2 separate regions of the Homo sapiens genome follow, and region 1 is linked to region 2. A link means that fine-mapping ties the variant in region 2 to the expression of a gene that starts in the linked region. Tissue or cell type: whole blood. Region 2 holds a variant in brackets; the other region holds the start of a gene. All regions are shown on one strand. Distances are between the middles of the regions.

Region 1 (2,682 bases), 750 kb after region 2:
CCCTTATAACGCTGTGACCCCAGCGAGGATTTTTTTTTTCCTTTAAAGAAAAGCTAAACTGTGCAGTTACCGCAGGAGATTTAAGGAGGAGGAACTGGCGGGGGGAGGGGGGCATTCCGTCTATAAAAAGCGCCTTACAAAGTCCTGAAGTCTGGAAATGACAGCGGAGGATATAAAATAAAAAATTTTAACTCCGATCCAACTTGCCCACCACTCAAGCCTCTGCTTAAATTCGTTTTCTGAGAGTGGGAGAGAACTGACGAAACGATCTTTCCGTGGAAAATTCCAGTTTCGTGCAATCCCGCTTGAACACTCACACACACACACTCTCCTGTCTCACATACACACACACACACACACACACACACATACCCATTCCTTTCAGCTCTTTGTTGTTTGAGACCTTTTCTTCGCTTTTGTAACTGCTCTGAACCTCTTGTTTCTTTTTCAGAAGTAGACGGGAAGGCTAATTGTGGATATATGTAAGCACAACATTTTTTCAGTCATAACTGATAAGTTTCTGAAATGCCTTCTGCATTGCAAACATGTGCATCTTAATAGAAAACATTGCTTTTCTCAATCACTAGTTACAGCCTCACAGCACACAATCCAGGAGAAGGAAAACCTCTTTTCTTCTCTTTGAGAGATCTGCTTGGCTTATTTTCTTCTTTCCCCTTTGGAATGGGGGATAGGAAGGGCTTGAGGGGGTGTTACTAAAAAATTTTAAATGATCCATCGAAACCCCTGCCTTACCTTAGGAAATCGAGCCAGCCATCATGAATGATGGACGGATCCAGCTGCAGAGAGAGGAAGTTCTCATTGACTGTCCTGACTGGGTTCTTGGTGCTCACATCAAGTAGAATCAGGGTCTTTTCCTTCAAACCTGCAGCTCTGTCTACAGGCAAGGGTCTCCTGTCTCCAGCCTGGGAGGAAAGGGAGAGATGGAGCAACAGAGCCAAGTAGAGAGCCCCCGGGGCTAGGCACGCGGGGGGGCGGGAGTTGCTGGAGGGCATGGCTTCAGGGAAGGCACAAAGCACCCTCATTCAATCCCTCTGATTTAAACCTCTCTTCCTACTGGGTCTCGCTAGTGACTAATTGTCCTTATCTAAAGTGTGTGTCTGTCCGCCTTTTTCCCCCCTTTTTTTCCCTTCCTCCCACCACCCCCCCAACACACACACACTCTCTCTCTCTCCCGCTCTCTCTCTCTCTCGCTCGCTCGCTCGCTCGTTTTGTTTTTTTCTTTTTTTTTTTTAATTTTTTTTAATTTTTTTTTTCAGTGTTTTGGTGCTGGTGGAGCGAACTCACGCCCCTAGCCAGCCTTCCCCGTGACTCTTGCCAAGAGAACTCGTACACCGGCACCGCCCCTTTAAGAGATTTCTACTGCAGACATTTTTTAACTTTTTAAAGGTAAGGGGAGGGGAGCAGGCGGGAAGGAGGAGAAAAGGGTGGCGTTGTACCCTCCTAATTTAACCCTCTAGGGTCAGGAAGCAGAGGGAGGAATCCAAACCATGCCGTTGTACCGTCTGGGTACAGAGCAAAGGGTCTCGTTTTTACGTCCTTCCCTGAGAGGCTCTGGAGGGCGGTTCAAGCTCCGACTCCGACCCGAAAGCCCCAGCGCCAACCCGGGACGCGCTGGGATAGAGTTCCCACCGACAGCACGCTTGTTTCTCCTGACAGCGTCAGGCACTTCGTCCGCTCAGGGCCCTTTTCTGGTTGAAGCAGCAATACCAAGGGCGGTTAAGTTGCAGAGGGGTCTTGAGGCGGTGATTCCTGTCAAAGCATAGAGCCCTGAAGGACATTCCCCGAAGAGGAGCCCTGATCTCTGTGACGCGTTGGATAGCCACACCGAAGCATCCTCTGACCTCCATAGGGCAAAGAGTAGCAAGAAGGAAAAACATAGTGACCTGGTCAAGCAGCTTTTCCGATCCGAGGGCCAAAAGGGACATGCGCCCTCGCTCTGCTCTGCTCTTCCCGCAACCGAGGAATAAGCGTCTTGGGAGCGTCAATACATGCTGGCTTTGGCCAAGTCGAAGCTACCTGAGCTGTGCTTGGATAGTCAGGGCGGCTCTGCGTCCAACTGTGCCACTTCTTGGCCACTCTATTCTGCTGCACAGGTAGAGTCCCCCCTCCAGACCCTCCTGGAGGTCAATCCTATACTTAGCCCTCCTGCAGGGAAGTGCGCCTTTACAGTGCCAGATGGGACCATAGTGACACTTTCGGGTTTCCATCTCGGCCCCCAGTCAAAACCAGAGTCACATAGCCCTGGATGGGGAATAACAGCCGGAAGCCGCTGTGATGCACGACCCGCCGCTGCTCATTGAGCTTCCACCCCACAACAGCTTGCAAATTGAACTCTAGGTCCTATCCTGAAGCGCGGGAAAGGGATCAGGCACAGTTTGCTGCAGTCACATTGCTGGGCCCCACTTTCGGCTTCTTTCTGAGACAAAATGGGACTTCTACTTGGCAGATGAAGGGAACTACTTTATGTAGTGCGGGCAGTCAGAAACGCAGAAGCGTCCAGGGCCCTCCTTGGTATCAAACAAGCAAAACCCTAAAATGCAGAGCAAGGGTTTTCCCCAGAAGTGGATGGACAAGGGTTAGTCTTAAAGCCCAGCAAACGCTGTAATAGCAACCTGTATCCTCTTACCTCCACCCAGACCAGGATTAACAAATCTGAAAACA
Region 2 (2,682 bases):
CTATATGTCAGGAACTTTACACAGATTACCTCATTTACTTCGCTCCACAAAAGAGGTTTCACAGACGAGGAAACTGACGCTCACAGAGATGACATAACTTGCCTAAAGACACACAGCCAGCAAGTAACAGAGCAGGGATGGACACCTTGGCTTGTTAGACTAAAGCATTTGGCCAGTCCCCTCCACACAGTGCACACAGTCTTCCTGACACTGGGCAGGCTCAGCTCCTAAGCTCTTCGGTTCCAGAGGACCCTAACCAGAGGACCCTAATCACTGCTGCAGAGTCAGCCCTTCTGTCAGAAATGGCTTTGCAGATCATTATTTAATGGCAGCAGGAGATTTAAATGCACTCATGATCCTCAGAAAATCACACCCAGGATGAGAGTTTTCAAGCTGCACAGGACCTTACCACATGTACAACAACCCTTGAAATCTGAAGATTAGGAAACTGAGGCCAAAGGATTAGGATAAAATAATTTTCCCAGGTCATATGATTATTTAGTGGTAAAGCAGGGACCAGAACCAGGTCTCCTGCCTAGGATGAAGGCCAGGAATTCAGCACACTCATCATGAACTACTCAGAAGTGAAGAGAAAGGGGATAAAATACTCAATAGAGTCCTGCTGACATAGGTAGGACCGGGAAGAAAGAAAAACAGACGCAATGTACATGTAGCCAGAAAAAAGAGCCAGCATGTGAACCGAGACTGAAAATGAAGATCTAGCGTGGGCTAAATAAGTCACTCAATAAGTGACTTCCCAGATTGTTTTTTGCTCCCATTGCAAATACAATTGGAAGCCAAATGCAAGCCACCAAGGTTGCAGTGAAACAGTGAATAATTATAGCACAAATATTTGTGGGCAGCTGTTGGAGTGCAAGCCACCTGCTCCAAGTTTACAGCTTTGTTAAACTTGGTAAACATTAAAAATGGAATAGGAATGCCTCCAGTCTGTGCAGCATCCCATACCCTTCCTGAGAGGCCTCACTCGGGGAGCTGGGGTGGCCTTGCCCTTGACCAGGCCCTTCTCACTGTGGCCTAGAGTTGTTTTGTTTGTAGAGATCCATGTTGTCAAGTCTCTAATAGAGACTGAGGGAGGCAGGGAGTGTCACAGAATCGTTTATTTGTAGAGTTTTGAAAGGGTCACAGAGCCCTCAAAATATAATCTCTGTCCTATTATTCAGATGAAGAAGCTGAGATGGAGCAGTGATGTGCTCAAGTCATAAAGTTAGGGGCAGGACAGACTCTTTATCTCTGACCTTTTGAGCACTAAACTCTTTGTTTAGTG[C/T]TCCTTCCTGTAAGCCCTGTGAGGTTAATAGATGGTAACAACAAGGGAGTCAGCATTACAGAATGTTACAGCTGTGAGGGACATGGTTCTCAACTACCAGGATGTTTGGTTGCTACATGACCATGGGGCACTATTGGCATTTGGTGAGCAGCGGCCAAGGATGCTAAACAGCTTACAATGTGATAGTTGTGTATAACGAAGAATCATCTGGCTCAAATACCAAGAGTATCCTTGTTGAGAAATACTTTCTCCACCATTTGACTTTACAACTGGGGAATCTAAGATAGGGAGGGGCTTGAACATGTTCCCAAAAGGAGTCAGCAGTCACCTGACCCCAGACCGCTCTTTGTCCTACTCCATCCCACTGAGCCCTTGAGAGAATTAGCAGCAACCTTGGTGTCTTCAGCCTCCCCCTCCCTCAGCTCCTGCTGCACTTGCTCCCGAGCTATTTTCAGGTTGGCACGTACTTGGACTTTAGGCCCTCCTGCCCATAGGGCTGCAGCAGGTACTGGTGAACCAGCTTGTCTCTGAGAGTCCCAGCCAGCTTGATTTTCTTTCTTGATCGATGCAAGTTGATGATAAAAAGTGTAATGGACCCACGAACGTAGTTGTGGCTGAGATCCAGAGAAAGAGAGAAGTGAAAGATGGAAACAAAGTGGTCAGTTAGATGCTTCTAAATAATTTATAGACTGTACAAAATATGAACAGCCCTGAAAATGGCACTTAAAAACTTGGCCACCATAGACCCTAAAAGAAAGGAAGGCCTTGTTATTGTGGTTTCTTGCAAAGATGATAGCCACTTCCTGCCATACTTCTTTTGTTTTTGTTTAAATTTATTGCAATGATTTTAGAAAATATAATGTATATATTTTATGGCATATATTACCATAGTATGGAAGTAAAACATGCTGATTGCAAAAAAGGAAAAATATTGAGAAACAAAAAGAAGAAAAAGAAAATTCCCCATAACCCTCATATCTTGAGATATGATAATATTTTGGCAAACATCCTTCCAGTATTTTTTAGTTTATTAATTTGACAAATATTTATTGAGTACTTTGACACATTATTACTCAGTTTTTACATAACTGGAATCACATTATTCACAGAGATTTTTTTCCATTAATGAACATCTTAAACATATTCCCATGTGATTCTTTTTCTACTTGTAGAAGAATGCTAAACTTTTCAATCATAGAAGTGTAACATTACTTAACTAATCCCCTATGTTTGCAGTTCAGACAACTCATGTTTGAACATTTTTGCCATTATAAATTATGTCATGTGTATAAACTTTTTGATTATTTCTGATGGATAAAGTCCTAGACGTTGGAATCATTAGTCCAAGGGAAACGTGTGTTGTATGATTCCTCACCAAATTTTCCAGTTCATTCCCA

The links. PIP is the estimated chance that this variant, and not a neighbour inherited with it, causes the effect.
Region 1: HPSE2 starts here. The variant in region 2 is fine-mapped to the expression of HPSE2 in whole blood (TOPMed, PIP above 0.99).

The regions. Positions count from the first base shown.
Region 1 is chr10:99,234,760-99,237,441 of GRCh38, forward strand. It overlaps HPSE2 (heparanase 2 (inactive)), which reads right to left and starts at 1,093. Exons shown (of 12, transcript NM_021828.5): 1 at 754-1,093. The coding sequence starts at 1,043. RefSeq lists enhancers at 1,670-2,170, 2,171-2,671.
Region 2 is chr10:98,480,884-98,483,565 of GRCh38, forward strand. It overlaps HPSE2 (heparanase 2 (inactive)), which reads right to left. Exons shown (of 12, transcript NM_021828.5): 11 at 1,753-1,899. Among named protein-coding and RNA genes, the nearest start is that of HPS1, 35 kb to the left of the region's middle. The variant C/T (reference allele first, on the strand shown) is at 1,286.